5 linked regions of the Homo sapiens genome follow. The protein of the gene in region 3 purifies or fractionates together with the protein of the main gene of each other region. This does not show direct contact. Each region holds a gene or a part of one and is shown on either strand. Other genes may lie near its edges. The genes, in order: CDKL1, KATNB1, KATNBL1, WDR62 and ATXN2L.

Region 1 (3,908 bases), on a different chromosome or scaffold from region 3:
ACAAATACAAAGTAATACAAACCAAAACAAACAAATACAAAACAAATACAAACCATACAAATACAAAGTAATACAAACCAAAACAAACAGATACAAAACAAATACAAACCATACAAATACAAAGTAATACAAACCAAAACAAACAAATACAAAACAAATACAAACCATACAAATACAAAGTAATACAATAGAATAATTGTATTACTAAGGCCCCAAGCCCCTATGCTGCTGAACCTTCTCTCTGTGGAATGAAAATGGTAAGAAGAGGAAAGAAAGAATTTCTGCCAGCAGTGGCAGAAAAAGTAGATGCTCCTAGCGGAGTTGGAGGTCAAGGACAGGACAGTGTCACTGTGGGATCCCTGGGCAGACGTTCTACCTATGGCAGGTGGTATGGGGGCGTTAAAATATATTAGACCAGCATTGGTCAAGGGCTGAAAGCAGCAGCTGGGACATTGTCTATGACATGTCTCCCTCCAGAAAACAAGAAAAACAAGTGAGACAAAGAGAAGGAATCATCTACTGCTATGTGGCAGGTAGGGGCAAGGGACCTAGTAAATTTGGACAAACTGCCAAGTATCATTGTTACTTAGGATGCACAAATTACACTAATAACAACCTTAGAAGGTAGATATCGTTACACTAATAACAACCTTAGAAGGTAGATATTGTTATCCCATTTTACAAATGGATTCAGTATGGTTAATGATTTGCCAAGGCCTCCCGGTCAGTAAGCTGGAATGCAGACACAGTTCTGTCTGTCCCCAAGTTCATGCCATGTGGTTTCCCCATACCAGAACCATCCATCACTTTATACCAAACACCATACTCTGAAGTCTCCCAATGACTGGTCGTCAGAATTTATACTGCCCGTTCTCCCGCAGGGCCTTAGCTGTGAGATTTGTGGCTTCTGTGGAGGCCTGAGTGCAGATTGTAGCTGAACAGCCGTTCTTTCCATATCTCATTCCATAACCCTATGGACTATTTTAGAAGGCTAAAATAGCCTTCTAAACCTTTGTACAAACCTTTGTAGGTTTGCCACCTACAAAGATGAGAATAAGTGTGAGGGGAAATGTCCATTTGAAAATTAATTATAAATATCACAACGTAATGCAGAGATTCATAATGAGAACAAGGTCACTCCTAAAGGGTGAAAATTGGTTCTTGGCAGGTGGCAAAAAAATCTAACTTTTTTATTGTTTAAAGCACAGATATACATATGGTTCATATACAGATATATAGTATATTTGTGATATTAAAATTTCATTGGTAAGTGATTAGAAAAAATGTGTAAAATGACTCTTTGAGGGAGAGAAATGAAAAAAGGTGCATGGGGTGTGGGCGAGTGGCACTGTTGAGTGTATCCTAGGTGCCAGAAGTAGGCTCTCATTTGATTTTAATTCATCGTGAATAGTAACCTGCAGAATGTCCAGAGCATCCCTTTTTTCCCTGCTGTCCCCTTTGATCAGTAGCCTTATAGAAGGGACAGGGGCATGGGGACAGGAGCTACAGTTAGAGACTTCAGTTTTCTTTTCTCTCTCTTTTTTTTTTTTTTTTTTTTTTTTTTGAAGACAGTCTCACTCTGCTGCCCAGGCTGGAGTGCAATAGCGCAATCTCGGCTCACTGCAACCTCTGCCTCCTGGGTTCAAGCGATTATCCTGCCTTAGCCTCCCCCAGTAGATAGGACTACAGGGGCGTGCCACCACACCCAGCTAATTTTTGTATTTTCAGTAGAGACAGGGTTTCACTGTGTTGTCCGGGCTGGTCTCAAACTCCTGATCTCATGATCCGCCTCCCTCGGCCTCCCTAAGTACAGGGATTACAGGCATGAGCCACCACACCCAGCTATGGAACTTCAGTTTCTGATCATGCTTGAAGCTGTGGAGTGACCTTGGGCAAGCTCTGGTGCTTCCTGGAGCCTGGCGTGCCTTATCGCTATGATTTATGTCCCTGTTTGGCATTGCTTTGCTGATTTTTTGCTGAGGAGGGCAGAGGGCTCTTGGGCCAAACATCTAACAGCGGTCAAGCAGCCTCAAGGATGCAAGAGCAGGAAAGTAGAGGGTCAAAGGGAGTAAACATAGAAGAGGAAAGCACAGACAGAAGGGCAGAAGGTGGGATTTTAACATAGTGCTGTGGCCAACGGCCAACGGAGGCGCTGGAGGCAAAAGCTCTTCACACAGTCCCCCAAGAGGCTCACTGTCTTCAAAGAGCAGACCAGAAGTCCTGCTGGGCACATTACCATCATGGTGACAGGCACATGCTTTAAGAAGTAGGACTGTCAAGGTTGCCTGTTATCCAAAGCATTTATTAAGTGCTTAACTGAATGTGCTCTGTGCAGTGCCACATCCACTAAATGCTAAGAGTACCATGTAAATGCTCCCTAGCATTAGAATCTAATTAGAACTTTCATAGTTGGAAGGGCTTCTGCTCTTCAAATATTAGTTGAAGGAGTGTTTCCTCACTCAGTAAAAACCTCAGCCAGCTGCAGTGGCTCATGCCTGTGATCCCAGCACTTTGGAAGGCTGAGGCAGGTGGATCACGAGGTCAGGAGTTTGAGACCAGCCTGGCCAACATCCCCGTCTCTACTAAAGATACAAAAAATTAGCCAGGTGTGGTGGCGGGCACCTGTAACCACAGCTACTTGGGAGGCTGAGGCAGGAGAATCGCTTGAACCCGGGAGGTGGAGGTGGCGGTGAGTCGAGATAGAGCCATTGTGCTCCAGCCTGGGCGACAGGGCAAGACTCTGTCTCAAAAAAACAAAACAAACAAACAAACACCTCAGTGGAAAATCCTGTGACATCTTTAAGAATTTCATCCTGCTTTTGCTAATAGGGGTCATTCTAGGCTCCCTCTCTTCAAATTGTTTAATTGGCTTGTTGAGGTGAATTAATAACATATGTCTATTAATTGTTTTAGCTGAGTTCAGCATTTTCTGTTATGGATTATGGATTAACAAACCCAAATGTCTGTGGAATCACACTGTTAACATAAATGAGGGAAGCAGTCTGAATATAGGGCAAGATGGAGAGGTGGAGACTGGGGCAAACTGGGGTCCTCATGTCTGATCTAAAGTGGACAGCTACTGCTCAGTGCCACAGACTGCAAGCCTAAGGTGCTGGGTTTTCAGTCTTTTTTTTTTTTGAGATGGAGTCTTGGTCTTGTCACCCAGGCTGGAGTGTAATGATATGATCTGGGCTCACTGCAACCTCTGCCTCCCAGGCTCAAGCGATTCTCCTGCCTCAGCCTCCTGAGTAGCTGGGATTACAGGTGCCCACTACCATGCCTAACTAATTTCTTGTATTTTTAGTAGAGACGGGGTTTCACCATGTTGGACAGGCTGGTTGTGAACTCCTGACTTCAGGTGATCCACCTGCCTCGGCCTCCCAAAGTGCTGGGATTACAGGCATGAGTCACCGCATCAGGCCCACCACCCCCACCCCCATTTTTTTTTTTTTTTTAAGACAGGGTCTCAGTCTGTTGCCCAGGCTGGAGTGCAGTGGGGCAATGATGGCTCACCGCAGCCTCAATCTCCAGGGCTCAGGTGATCCTCCCACCTCAGCCTCCTGAATAGCTGGGACTACAGGCATGCATCACCACACTAGGCTAATTCTTTGTATTCTTTTTTTTTTTTTCTTTTTGAGACGGAGTCTCGCTCTGTCTTCCAGGCTGGAATACAGTGGCGCGATCTTGGCTTACTGCAACCTCCACCTCCCAGATTCAAGTGATTCTCCTGCCTCAGTCTCTTGAGCAGCTGGGATTATAGGTGCATGCCACCACACCTGGCTGGTTTTTGTGTTTTTAGTAGAGATGGCCAGGCTGGTCTCAAACTCCTGACCTCGGCCTCCCAAAGTGCTGGGATTACAGACATGAGCCACTGCGCCCAGCCAATTCTTTGTATTCTTTGTAGAGAT
Region 2 (3,908 bases), on a different chromosome or scaffold from region 3:
TCCCTTCGACAGCTGGCCTTTCCCCAGAGCTAGGCACTGGGGAGCCACTGGGGGACAAAGTAGTCAAGGTCTCTGTACAGCGGGAGCTCAGAGCCTGGGGAGAGCAACAGGCAGGAACTGGATAACCGTATCCCTCTGTGTCTCCTCTAGTTGCAAGCTGGTGCCTGTGCTTTGAATCAGTTAGCTGGGGGGTAGGGGTAGGGGTGGGGTGGGAATGCTGCAGGCTGCATGAACAGCAAGTGCAAAGGCCCTGAGGCAGGAGGCTCAGTGTATTGGAAGGACTCAAGGGAGGCCATGGGCAGTGGCACAGCAGCAGGAGGAATGTGGGGCCGCACGGACCTACTGAGTTCTCAGGACCCCAGCCCTCCTGAGGCTGCCGTGCTTTATCATAAAGGCAAGGCCAAGCCATCAGTGTGTGCGAGCAGGAGGTAATGAGATCAGGCGTATTGGGCATCTGCTGCTGCTGCTGATTTCATGTGCACGGTGGTGTCCGTGGGAATCAACTCTGAAGAGCCCAGGGCCACGTGACCTCTGGCTCCTTGTGGCTCCAGGGTCTGGTGAGGATCAGAGGTGCGTGGCCCACATGAGGTCGTTGAAACCTAGTACTTTGTATCTTGCATTTGGGATGCTGATCCTCAGCCCCTCTGGCCACGCCGCACCATGTTCCCCAGCTTTGGCTGGATGTGGGGCCCAGGTTGTACTCCCAGAGCTTGGCCTGCCAGTAGACACTGAGGATTTTTATTTTTTATTTTTGGTATGAAAATCAAGTATTCGGCCTGGGCTGTTGGTTGCTGTCCAACAAGCCAGGATGAAGGAGGAGCTCTTGGGGTGGTGCCCCGTGCCTCCTTTGCAGGTGCCTGTGCTGTGTCCCTGCCCCTCTGCCCTCCCTCTGTGGGCTCCAGTCAGTCCCTGGTCAGGCTGCTTAGAGGGGAGTGATGTGGGCTCCTCCAGAAGGGCCCAACTTCTAAATCTTTCTCACTCCAAAGTCTGCGGTTTTGCCAGCTCAGTGTCCCGCCCCCACCACCATCTGATTATACTGGGGCATATTTCGTGCAAGGCCTAGAACAGGCACCCAGGAAATACTGATATTATGAATGAATGCCCCTGACTCCAGGGGCAGCAGTCCTGAGGCCCAGTGAGGTGGGGCCCAGCCAGACACTTTCCCTGGGAGGAGTGAGGGCCAGGGGACAGACAGAGCCCTCCAGGTAGGCCAGGGGGAGCGAGCAGTGCCTCCACGGAGAGGACACCAGGCTCGGGCACGGAATGCCAGGGAGAAGGTGCTTTGCCCTCTTTCTGGGTCAGGTGGAAACCTTGAACAGACACGTCTGTGGCTGGAATTCCTCAGGTTTCTGTCCCGACAGTGTCCAGAGGACAGAAGGCTCTCATCGAGACGGGACTAAAGTGGGGCCCAGCTCCCTGGGATCCCCATGGCGAACTCCCAGCGCCCTGGCCCAGGTTTGGGCCCACAGGGAACCCTCGCCCTTGCTGGCGCTGCTGCCTGTGCTGGCTCTGCCCCGACCGGCCCAGGAGGCAGGGTGTCATCAGTGAGATTCAGCCTGCGACTTGTCCCCTGGGTATTCCTGGTGGCCCCTTGGAGCCCAGGTTTCTGGCAAGCAGCTTCCCTGGGCCCAGTTTCCCAACCTCCTTGTGGTCTGAAGCCCGCAGCAGAGACACCCAGGCAGGGTGGAGTCGGAGCTGGGGTGCAGGAGGGGCCTCTGTGGAGCGCCGTGGCTCCAACACCCTTTTCCTTGGCGTCACCCACGCTGGCCTTCCGGGTGCCTCGGGGCGTCAGCACCTTGGGGTTTTCCCCTGGCCTGTGTGGGGAGAACTGTCTTTTTTCTCCCTTCTTTCCAGGAGGAGCTCATGCAGGGATGGGTTCTGAGGCCCGGGCCGCCTCTTGGTTCCCTGCCTGTGCTTTGCTCCCTGCGGAGTCCTCCGAGGCTCCTGTCTGCCATCTCCACGGACCAGGCCAGGGCCTTGGGCTGTCTGCACAGGCTCCTCCTCTGTGTGGTCAGCCCTCACCCCCACCCCAGCTGCTCAGTCTGTTGCCTCCTGCCCCCTCCTCATGAAGCCCACCCTCTGGTGCCCGCCCAGGCCCCCATGCCCACTCTCTCATGGTGACTAGCCCCGAGCCTGCCCAATGTCACGGAGCCCTCGCCTGCTACTAAGCAGCACGTAGGCGCGCTCTGAGGGAGTCCTCAGCATCAGGTGTGAGCAGACACCACGGGCATCCCCACTTTCCAGACGAGGAGCCAGGCCCTCAGAGGACAAGTGACCTAGTAGCCAAGGCCACGCAATAGCAGATCACAGACCTCAGACCAGAACCTGATCCGTGATTGTGAATCTGAGCCGAAGCCCTGTGCAGGCTTACCTGGGGGCAGCTTGTCTAGAGGTGACTTCGGTTGTTCTTAAAGTGTGTTCTCCAAAGCAGGGTTTGTATGTACACACAAGCAGCAGCTGAGAGGTGTGTAGGCAGTGCATGGGTCAATTTTTTTTATTTCAATAATTGTTTTTCTTTTTGTATCATAGAAAGAGTATCATGAGTATATCAAACTTGTAATTTCATGGACATTGCTTAAGCCCAAGCTAATAAAAATAGCAAGTCAATTTTAAAAATTGCGTATAACTAGTCAATATTACCAGGTGATATGCAGAAACAGGAAGAAAATCGTGAAGTCTAAAGGTAGGAAAGACAGGCATGATGAAAGTTGAGAAACAGTGATTTCCGTCTCAGGCCCATGCCCTGCCCTGTCTGCTGGTCCTGCAGCTCATGGTGGACACCAAAGGGGGAGCTGAAGGAGGCAGATCCTTCCACTGGGCTTCAGGTTCCAAAGCGGGTAGCCGAGCAGGGTCACCCCTCCTTCACAAGGCCCCATCGGGCCGCCCTGATGGCCTCTCCCTCTCCTTCCCTGTGTAGAAGAGATCGTCGCGCATGCCAGCAACGTGTCCTCACTGGTGCTGGGCAAAGCCTCCGGGCGGCTGCTGGCTACAGGCGGGGATGACTGCCGCGTCAACCTGTGGTCCATCAACAAGCCCAACTGCATCATGGTGAGCCCCGACAGCTGGCGGGGGGTCAGGACAAGGGCCTGGGGAGGGGACGGGGACAGGGGTTGGAGGCTGAAGAGTGAGCAGCTTCTCAGACTCTCTTGAGCCCAGGGCCCCCTATCCGCTGGGGCCCAGCTCAGGGGTGGAGGGGGCGTGGTGGGGACACCATCAGTGCTTCCCCCAGCTGTCTGCTCAGTGAGGCCCAGGACAGCCCAGCATGGCTGGGACAGTGGCCAGCCCTCAGGAGCGAGGGAGTCACCTGCCTGTGGTACTATTAAGAACTCCAGGCAGGCTGCGTGAGAAGATTAAAATAAGCCCTGGGCCTGTGGTTGAGCCAAAAGACTTGTACCCCTCCCCTCCCACCTGCCCATCTGCCTGCCTGGCAGCAACATGTGGGCGTTTATTTTAATTCATTCCCAGCCTTCATTCCCCAATGAGGATTTGAGGGGACCTGGCTGGAGCTGGTTAGGGAGCTAGTTCTTAAATAGCATCTCCCCACTATTTATGCAGCTATATGTTCAATGCTGGAAACTGTTTTCCAAATAGGAGTGCATAAAGGAGAAAACACAAAATTAACTACATATAGTTCCGTTATCCAAAGGCCACCACAGTTGGTGTTTTGGTGTGAGTCCTTCTAGATGCTGAGACAGATACATATACGTGTACATGCACGTAAGTGCACACTTGTACATGCATGTACACATGTATACACACAAATACTCATACAAGCACACACACATAAATAAAAATACACTGCCACTCTTGTGCAGCCTGGTTTTTAAAAATAACAATGTTGTAAGGATTTGCCTGTGTCAACAAGTATTCTTTTACAACATAATTTTGAATGGCTTAATGGTGTTCCA
Region 3 (3,908 bases):
CTCATTGGGGACCTCAAGCTATGTGTGATGCAGTCCTTTGGGTTTATGGATGTGTAGCAATTTACACTTTGACATGACAGGTTACAGATAGTTGCCTAGTATTTAGGATGACTAATAAGCAGACCCTCAGAAAACCACCTCTTAGGGGAAGGTATCTGGAATTAAGACTGTTCCAAAGTATCCAAGTTGATTACGCCAAGATGCCCCAAATTGGTTGTCTAAAATATTTATTAGTAATAGTAGATCACCTTACTCATTGGGTAGAAGCTATTTCCTTTCAAGTGCAACTGCTAATAATGTAGTCAAAACATTAGTTGAAAATATTATACCCAGGTTTGGATTAATAGGAAACATTGATTCAGATAATGGAACTCATTTCATTGCACATGTCATTAAGAAATTAGCCCAGGTACTGGATATAACATGGGAAATCATACTCCCTGGCACCCACCTTCATCAGGAAGAGTGGGGAAAAAAATGAACCAAACTCTAAAAAGCCACTTAAGCAAATTAGTCTTAGAGACTCGGTTGCCATGGACTAGATGCCTTCCCATTGCCCTGTTGAGAATCCGAACTGCTCCTCAGAGAGATGTTGGCTTATCCCCTTATGAAATGTTGTGTAAGTTGCTCTATTTGCACTCCGCTGCTGACATTCCCATGTTCGAAACAAAAGATCAGTTTCTCAGAAATTATATACTTAAGTTTATCTTCCACTTTCTCTTGCCTCAGAACTAAAGGTCTTTTAGCACAGGCACCACCCCTAGAGTTTCCAGTACACCAACATCAGCCTAGGGACCACATCCTTGTCAAAAGTTGGAGGGAAGGAAAACTTGAACCAGCTTAGGAAGGACCCTGCCTAGTGCTTCTAACCATTGAGACCACAGTTCAAACAGCAGAAATGGGATGGACTCATCACACCCAGGTCAAAAGAGCACCACCTCCTCCAGAATCATGGGCAGCTATTCTAGGGCTTACTCTAACCAAGCTAAAGCTAAAACGGGTTTGATCCTCTTATGTTGCATCTCTTCTTTTCCCCATCTATTGCTAGTCCTCTTGTTATTAATGTAACTAGGTCGAGTTCACCCCAAACTATTACCTTTGATGCTTGCCTTGTGATGCCCTGTGGAGATGTGCCAAGCCAGAGGCAACTCTCCACTTCAGAAAAGTATCTTTGTCCTTCCTAGCTCTTCTCAGACTGGAATTCTGTTAACTGGGATAAGTTAGCTTGGGAAGAGTTTGACGGAGATTCCAGTATAAACTGAGAGTCTTGCCTTCCCAATACAAAGCTTTTATGCTGTAGTTGGTCCAACATTCTGTGGACCACTAAAGAGCAAGAATAGATTGCCCCAAGCAGTAGTTGTAATTTCCTAAAGCTATACATTCATTTTACTAAAGGAACAGCTTCCCCTAACTGTCAGCTAAATCAGTACAATCCAGTACAGGCTATTATCTCAAACCCTCTAAGTTCTTCCCCTTCTCTAAGCCAATTTCCTTCTTTAAGCCAGTTTTATAATATGGGGGCTGAGGTTTCAGGAGCAGACCCTATCAGATCCTTTGAAATATTCTTCATTGCTCCCCCACCGCCTACACCTTCCCCTAAGCCTTCTTCCAGAACCTCCCACAACAAAACTGTTGTTCTTCCTCCATCTAATGACAAGACGAAGGTAGCTATTGTAGAAGTCAAAGTCCTAAAAGAAACTTTAGCAATTGAGACGGGATATCAAAATGCCAATGCCTGGTTAGAATAGATAAAATATTTCATCCGCACTTTAAACAAAAGCAATTGTTATGCTCGTGCGCATGGCAGGCCAGAGGGCCAGATTGTCCCCTTTCCACTATGATGGTCCTCCAGTCAACCAGGCATGGGCTGTATGGTAGCTCTTTTTCCAGGATTCCACAGCCTGGGGTAACAAGTCGTGCCAAGCTCTTTCTCTGCTATATCCCGAAGTTCAAGACCCCACAGGTTAGCCCCCGAGGGCCATCCAGCTTCTGTCTCCCGACACTGAGTTCATTTTGTGTCTCTCACGACAAAGAGGAAACTTAGCATCCCTTAGAGACCTAAAAGGATGCGGTGAGCTTAAGACTTTCCAAGAGCTCACCAACCAGTCAGCCCTTATACACCCCCGAGCAGATGTATGGTGATATTGTGGTAGACCTTTGCTGGACACTCTGCCTAGTAACTGGAGTGTCACTTGCGCCCTAGTGCAGTTGGCTATCCCTTTCACCCTGGCATTTCATCAACCAGAGAAAGAAAAAAACACAATGTCATAAAGCAAGGGAAGCCCCTTATGGGTCTTTCGACTCCCACATTTATTTAGATGCAATTAGAGTCCCACGAGGAGTACCAAATAAATTTAAGACCTGAGATCAAATAGCTGCTGGATTTGAGTCAATATTTTGGTGGGTGACAATTAATAAAAACGTAGATTAGATAAATTCCACCTATTACAACCAACAGCGGTTTATTAACTATACTAGAGATGCTGTTAAAGGAATAGCTGAGCAATTAGGGCTTACTAGCCAGATGGCTTGGGAAAATAGAATGGCCTTAGACATGATTTTAGCAGAAAAAGGGGAAGTTTGCATCATGATTAAAACTCAGTGTTGTACCTTCATCCCAAACAATACCGCCCCTGATGAAAGTATAACAAAGGCATTGCAAGGTCTAACTGCTCTGTCCAATGAGTTAGCAAAAAACTCAGGAGTAAATGACCCCTTCACAGGGTGGCTAGAAAAATGGTTTGGTAAATGGAAAGGGATCACAGCCACCATCCTTACTTCTCTTGCAATTGTAGCAGTAGTGCTTATCCTTGTTGGATGCTGCATCATACCTCGCATCCGTGGGCTAGTCCAAAGACATACAGAAACAGCCCTTACTAAAACTTCTCTCAGTTCCCCTCCACCATATTCTGACAAGCTCTTTCTTTTAGAAAACCAAGCAGAACAGCTATGCCAAGACATGTTAAAGAAATTTGAAGAGGAAGACCTGTAAAATTCAAAAGGGGGATATTGTTAAGTACAGTGAGTTCTGAGTTCCTCTGGGAACCAGTATGTCAGTATGTTCAGCTTTCTTATACTTTGTTCTCCATTTTAAAGTTTAACTTCCTCATTCTTTACACCTCCTTGCCCTAGTTTCAGTAAACAACCCCCTTCTAGCCTTTATACTCACATATTTAGAGTCCTTAGTCATCCTTAGTCACCTGCTCTGTCCTTAGTCATCCTTAGTCACCTGCACTGTAACCATCCTTCCTGCCTAAACTGCTCACCCCGCCACTCTGCCTCATACCCAGATAGCCTATCAGAATTAGTTTAGACTGTGCGGTCCAACCCTAGCCAATAGGGGAATGACACAGTAGTAGGGACTAGCTGCATTAGGGATAAGAACCCCTTCTCCTCCCATGCCCGGTATGCTCTTGCGACCACTCCAGGCACGATTGGCACCCTTCTGCAGAAGTAAATTGCCTTGCTGAGAAAGCTTTTTGCCGGAGTGCTGATTCTTCTTTGCGGCACCAAGCATTTGTTTCTAACATCAACTATCTACTTTCATTTTTCAGGTTAAGAAATCTCCAAAACAGTTGGCTGCTTACATAAATAGGTAAGAGTTTCTTTAAAGTTTGTGGGGAACAACAAATATGAAAGCTGGGTAAGGATGACAATAAGGGAAAAATAAGCATTCTTTTATCATAATAATAATTAACTTATTGTCAAACAGCTTCTTTATGCCAGTATCTGCACTAATAAACACATCAATATTGTCTCTGCTCCTTACAACAGTCCTACTCTATAGCCTACTCTATAGATAACATTAACCCTAACAGTTGATGAGAAAACTTAAGATCAGATAAGTTAAATGATTTGTTCAGAATCATATAGCTAGAAAAGTGGTAAGAATGACATTCATTCTCAGA
Region 4 (3,264 bases), on a different chromosome or scaffold from region 3:
TTAAAGAGACGGGGTTTTGGCCAGGTGCGGTGGCTCATGCCTGTAATCCCAGCACTTTGGGAGGCCGAGGTGGGCGGATCTCCCAAGGTCAGGAGTTTGAGACCAGCCTGGCCAACATGGCAAAACCCCGTCTCTACTAAAAATACAAAAATCAGCTGAGTATGGTGGTGGGTGCCTGTAATCCCAGCTACTCGGGAGGCTGAGGCAGGAGAATCGCTTGAACCCGGGAGGCGGAGGTTGCAGTGAGCCAAGATCGCACCACTGCACTCTAGCCTGGATGACACAGCAAGATTCCATCTCAAAAACAAAAATAAATAAATAAATACATGAAATAAAGAGATGGGGTTTCACCAAGTTGCCCAGGCTGGTCTCAAACTCCTGGCCTCAAGCGATCCTCCCACCTCAGCCTCCTGAGTAGCCGGGATTATAGGTGCAGGCCACCATACCCAGCTTGGGCAAGCCTGTTCATGGGTCCTCAGTTTCCCCTGTTGCAGATGGGGACACCACCACCGTGGACTTTGTGGGATCTAGTGTGGCCTTGGCCCAGAGGCCCTGAGCCATGATATGGCAAAGCGTGGACTGCTGGGCAAGGTAGGCACATGGTGATCACAGCAGCCCCAGTGAGTTCTCAGGCACTGGCAGGGGGCAGGTAAGAGGGTCTGGCTCCTCCCTGGGGCACAAATGGGCCCCACTGGGTAAGCACCTCACACTGGTCTGTGGCAGCTCTGTGGGCAGTGTGGGAGGACTGGCCCTGAGGTCATGGCTGCAGTTCCTGAACTTCTTGGGAGCGCTGGTCCCATGCTCTCCACTGACAGACACGAGTCCTCTGGGCATCACCTTCTACCCTCCCTCCCCACTTCCACTTGAAGAGGGCTTTGTGGATAGGCCCAAACAGACACCAGGAACCATTCCTCAAAGCTGTCAGTTTATTCGCTTAAAATACCTAAGTCCTCAGAAGCAGCAGGGCTGCGGTGGAGGGGCTGCGCCCTCAGTGCCCCCGTGCCTTCCTCCGCACGGCCTGCACCAGCAGCTCCGAGTAGTGTTCCAGCAGGGCCTGCAGGTCTGGGCTGGCCAGGGGGTACAGCGTCGGTGGGGACGGGGGTCCTGGGCTGGGCAGAGCCTGGGCTGGGGCCACACTAGTCCCCACCAGGCATTCAGCCTCCAGCTGGCTGTGGATCCACAGGAAGGTGGAGACCAGCTCAGTCCGTGCCTGCTGCTGCCCGGTGTCCACCTGGCCACTGGAGACCAACTGCAAGGGATGCCAGCCTTGTCAGGGGCCACCAAGGCCGGGCGGTCTCAAGAGACCCCTCAACCCTTTCCCAACTCTGGGGCTTAGCTCACCACACGGTAAAGGTCGAGGGCTTCTTGGAAGGTGGTCTGCAGCCTGTGCAAGATGTTCCCCACCCTGCTCAGCTCAAGGGGAGATGGGGGCAGGGCTTCAACCGGCACCCAGGGCTCACTCCAGCGGGCAGGGCTGCCCTGTAACAGACCAAGTGCACCTGGGGTAGAGAGAAGGGAATGAGCAAGATGAGCTGCATTCCATTGGTGTGAGCGGCCAGAGCGACTGGGTGGACTCCATGCTGTACTTCTGTCTGGAACACTTCTCTGGGTCCCCAAGGCTCCCTCCCCTTCACTCCTACAGGTCTCTGCTCCAATGCAGCCTCCTCCCTGAAGCCTCTTCTTATCTTCTGGTTTGTAATCCCAACCCCTGTCCCCACCCTGCACTCCCTCGCCCTCCTCTGTCCCTCCTAAGCATGTGTCACTTCGTGATACATATGACGGGTTCCTTAAAGGTTTAGTCTGGGCATTGTCCCCATTGAAGCTGTCAGTTCTCTGTGTTGTTTACCACCATGTCCCATGTCCCAGGGTTTAGCACAAAGCCCAACATGTAATGCTCATTAAATATTTAAGTTAATGCACGAATGAATGAATGGCACAGTCCCTGTGGCCAGGTCAAGTATCCATCTTTGGAGCTGAGCCAACTAGCACACAGGATGAGCTTAGGGGACAGTCCTTGCTCCAGGGCTGTACTCACCGGAGGTGGGCTCCAGGAGGGAGGCAGTGCCGCCAGGGATGCCAGGCCGGGCCTCTGGAAGCTGGGGGTTACTGGGGTGGGCAGGAAGGCCAGGGGACTCAGGAGCTGGGAGACTTGGGCGAAAGGCAGAGCCGTGGAGCCTCAGGGCGCTCTCTTCCACAGGGCTAGGGGCTGGGAAGCTCACTGCAGGGACGGTGACGCCAGGCTGGGTATCCACGGGGGGCTGCAGGAGCCCATCACAGGCACTTGACAGGGTCAGTCTCAGGTTGGCCCGGGCCTCGTGGTTGCCCCAGGAACGCAGGGCAGGCTCTTGGCCCTCACTGTCCAAACTGGGTGTTGTCGCGGTGGTGATGGCCTGAAGCTCCTGGCCCAAGGAGGCCAGCTCCCCAACGGACGATGGCCTACGGAGGGGCTGGGCCAGTGTGGCCACGATAGGGCCCTCACTGTCACCGAGGGAGATGCTGCGTGATATCCTGGCACGGGAGCTGGCAGTGGCCTCCATGTAGGAACAGGTGGAGGGGGCATGGACACCCTGAGCCAGGCCTGGGGTGGGTGCAGATGTGGGCGTTGGGAGATTCCTGTCTGTGGGCAGCACGGAGGAAGCAGGGACACAGGACGCCAGGCTCGTAAGGCAGGGAGCTGTAACGGAAGCAGATGGCACTGACTCCACCACACAGAACTGATGGCTAGGGCCCCCACGCCCCACAGCTAGGCTGGACATCCGGCCACTCGCCGAGAAACCCAGGACTGTCCGTCTGGGACTGGGGCACTCACGTGGTGGGCGCCAGGCCTCCAGGGTCTCTTCAGCCTTCCCTGCAGCGAGGACCTGCAGGCACAGCTCTGAGGTGAGGACAAGGCCTCAGGGTTCCCAGCCCCGTGCCCTGACGGAGGTGGGCCCAATACTCACGTGGGTCCTGTCTGGGGAGGCGTAGCCAGTACCTGCTCTGGGCTGGCTTCCGCCTCGGTCCATGAGCTTGACCTCTGGAGACTTCACAAGGCACTGGGTTGCCCGGGGAGGGAAGGTATGGGTGAACCTGTGGGGAGGAGAGCAGGGGGGATGATTCTCATTCAGCCTGCCCTGGGGCACTGTTGAGGAGCCAGAGGGTGGGCAGTGCTTGGCCAGCTTCTACCTGGATGCCTTCTGGAGGCTTGAGAGGAACTGCGTGGAGATACTCAGGCGTGGGTTGAAGAAGTGGTCTTCAGCTTCAGAGGCCTCCACGTCTCCCAGA
Region 5 (2,775 bases), on a different chromosome or scaffold from region 3:
CAGCTGGGCTCTTACCTGGGTAACATGGGCCATGTTGGTGAAGCCGTGGGGCAGCTGCTGGTGGTGGATGGCATACACAGCGGCTGGCTGGGGGAAGCTGCTCTGAGGGGACTGGGCAGAAGGTCCCGGTGGCAGAGAGGGCGGCGTGCCTGTCAGGGCCCCTGGGTGGTACAGATTCTGCTGTGGCTGTCCACTGCCCAAGTGTGGGGCCTGCCCCGCCTGATGCTGCTGGGGAGGGGAAGGTTGAGTGCCACACAGGCCAGCAACTCGCTGGCCCCCAGTCCTCGCCACTCAGAAATGACCCCTAGCTCTATCCCTTCTTCTGGCCACCCATTCCTGCACCAGGACCACTCAGCACCCCCCATGGCAGGCACCTGGACAGGACTGGGGGCCGCATGCTGGGACTGCGGCTGGCTTCCAGTAGGCGTGGTAGCCGGCTGCGGCTGGTGGGCATGGAGCTGTGTGGCATGGTGTGGGTAGGACTGGTGAACAGTGGCTGCAGCAGGAAAGAGGGAGAACCAGTGCTGAGCACACCAGAGGGGGCTGGCACACAGCCCAGAGCAGAGGGACCAGGCGCAGGACTCACCATAAAGGGCTTGGGGGGTAGGCTGCTCTGCAGAAGGGTACTGAGGGGTAGAGGATGACACGATGGCCTGGGGATGGCTGCCCGACGTCAGCATGCGTGGGTTGCTCTGAAGCATGGGGGCAAACACCGGCTGGCGGGACAGAGAGAGGAGTGGTTGGCACAGCCGCCAGCTGGGAAGGTGTCCTCCTGCCAGTCACTGCGTGCACAGCACCGCTTGGGCCTCCTCACAATCACCCTATTGATTCAACATTCATAACGATCCCACCCAGCAGACACTATTTTCTCTACACTTCAGAGATACAGATGTCCAATGCCTTGTTACAGGTACCACCAGAGCCAGGGCTCAAGCCCAAGTCTGACACCGCCAATACCACAGAGGGCCGATCCCACCTACAACACTGCCTGCCACCCCTAGCCAGCTCCCAAGTCTCTGGAGAAGATGGGATCCCTAGCAGGGGCCCTGGATCCTCACTGCCCTCCTGGGCCGCAGTCACCTGTGAGGGGTAGTGGGCCATGGGCTGCATCATGGCTGGCTGGCCTGGGAACTGCTGAGGGTTGTAGGGGATGTAGGAAGAATAGGGCGTGGCAGCCACCAGAGGCGGGCCAGCAGCCGCGGCGGCCTGCATCATCGGCGGGGCTGAGGCTGGCTGGTGTTGGTCCGAGCGCTGCGGAGGAAGGGAGCCTGGAAGAGGAGGAGGAGAGGAGAGCTCAAGCTCCACCTGCCAGTAGGCCCTTGGCAGCCTCGCCGCCTGCCCCTCCCAGCCCTGCTCACCTTTTGCTCCCCGGTACTTGCCCTGCTGCCCAGGCACTGAATTGGATACAGGATATGGATACATCTGAGGTGCCTGGGGATGAGGACACAGATGAGGCTGAATGACTCGCTCACGAATGCCCAGACAGGCCTGACCTGGTCCCTCAACCAGCGCAACCAAATCCCACCCCGCTAACCCTGGGCCCGGCCAGTCTCTCTGCATACCTGCACAGCTGGTCCCATGTGGATCTGAGGTATGTAGGAGATGTACTGGGGGCTGTATAGCCCACTCTGGCCTGCTGTCAGCACCGGGATGGAGGGAGTTGAATGAGTCCGGGGCCCCGGAGAAGTTGGGGTACTGGTGGATTTATTCTGCAAAAACAAGGGAGGACAATTTTATTTTGTATTTTCCCCTCTACTCCTGGCCATGCCTAGAGTGGTAATAATTAACATTCGTGAAATGCTGCATACCAAACATATTCTGCACTTATCTTGATAAAGCCTCACATTAAACCCTATGAGGAGATGAGTATTCTAAAGTTACAGGTGAGGCAGAGAATGTAAGTGACGTCCAAGATCACAAACCTTCCAAATACAGGGGCTCAAGCCAAGTCAGCTGGCCTCTGTTCATGACTACCCCACTCCAATACTCCCTCAGCCAAATGCCAAGAACCAAAGAAAAGCCTGTTAACCCCTCATCAGACTCACTGGGATCCCTGATCCCCTGATCACCCAAACCTAGAGACCTGAGTCCATTTTCCCCAAGCCAGCCCCAAAGGTGCCATCCTTACATTTTTATGACATCTCCTCACACTGCCTGCCAGGCAAGTGGTCCTGGAAGTGAAGTGTTCCTCCCCCTATTCATCTATAAGCACTGCCCAAGTCTCCCCACAGAAACCAAAGTCCACATTCTCCTGTCCCAGCTCACCACAGACAGCAGAGGCTTTGTAGGATTGAACTCCTTAGCATTAGGGTTCAACGTTGATTTCTTTACTTGTCTGTGAGAGAAAGTACAGTAAATCTTCACGGCTTGCTCTCATCCCTCCTGCCATCCTCCCAGAGCCCCACCCCGCTCCACTCACTCAGCAACAGGGCCCTCATCTTTGTCTTCTCCCTTGATGAGGCCCACCGGGGGGCTGCCAGTTTGGCTTGGACAAGGTGGTGGGGGCTGCTCTGGCCCCTCAGTGCCTCCTGATGGTGCCAGGGGTGGTTTGTCCTCCTTATCCGATACGGACTCTGTCTTGGAGGAGACGGGAGACCCCATGGGCTCTGAAGTCAACAGACCATCAACCTCTTTCTCCTTTCCTTTGGGCTCCTCCTTTAAGATCCGGGGAGGAAAAGGATCCAGGCTGTTCTCAGGGGAGCTACTGGGCTGAAGCTGGAAGAGAGAAACACACACAGTCCAGTCTGACCCAGACCCTAGTCCTGGCTTTCTTCT

What was found.
Region 1: the proteins of KATNBL1 (region 3) and CDKL1 purify together in Homo sapiens (tandem affinity purification; one large-scale study listed by IntAct). This does not show direct contact.
Region 2: the proteins of KATNBL1 (region 3) and KATNB1 purify together in Homo sapiens (affinity purification with mass spectrometry; 4 studies listed by BioGRID and IntAct, with this or other methods). This does not show direct contact.
Region 4: the proteins of KATNBL1 (region 3) and WDR62 purify together in Homo sapiens (tandem affinity purification; one large-scale study listed by IntAct). This does not show direct contact.
Region 5: the proteins of KATNBL1 (region 3) and ATXN2L purify together in Homo sapiens (affinity purification with mass spectrometry; one large-scale study listed by BioGRID and IntAct). This does not show direct contact.

The regions. Positions count from the first base shown.
Region 1 is NC_000014.9:50,386,754-50,390,661, reverse strand, and holds part of CDKL1 (cyclin-dependent kinase-like 1), read left to right. Parts: intron 1-3,908.
Region 2 is NC_000016.10:57,738,770-57,742,677, forward strand, and holds part of KATNB1 (katanin p80 WD40 repeat-containing subunit B1), read left to right. Parts: intron 1-2,917; coding exon 2,918-3,048; intron 3,049-3,908.
Region 3 is NC_000015.10:34,154,331-34,158,238, reverse strand, and holds part of KATNBL1 (KATNB1-like protein 1), read left to right. Parts: intron 1-3,554; coding exon 3,555-3,595; intron 3,596-3,908.
Region 4 is NC_000019.10:36,102,753-36,106,016, reverse strand, and holds the end of WDR62 (WD repeat-containing protein 62), read right to left. Parts: coding exon 3,166-3,264; intron 3,070-3,165; coding exon 2,943-3,069; intron 2,862-2,942; coding exon 2,810-2,861; intron 2,675-2,809; coding exon 2,036-2,674; intron 1,500-2,035; coding exon 1,342-1,499; intron 1,250-1,341; coding exon 989-1,249; 3' UTR 909-988; downstream 1-908. UniProt on the Homo sapiens protein: Required for cerebral cortical development. Plays a role in neuronal proliferation and migration.
Region 5 is NC_000016.10:28,832,999-28,835,773, reverse strand, and holds part of ATXN2L (ataxin-2-like protein), read right to left. Parts: intron 2,716-2,775; coding exon 2,420-2,715; intron 2,336-2,419; coding exon 2,266-2,335; intron 1,710-2,265; coding exon 1,563-1,709; intron 1,432-1,562; coding exon 1,359-1,431; intron 1,269-1,358; coding exon 1,081-1,268; intron 717-1,080; coding exon 587-716; intron 497-586; coding exon 375-496; intron 229-374; coding exon of another isoform or gene 226-228; coding exon 16-225; intron 1-15. UniProt on the Homo sapiens protein: Involved in the regulation of stress granule and P-body formation.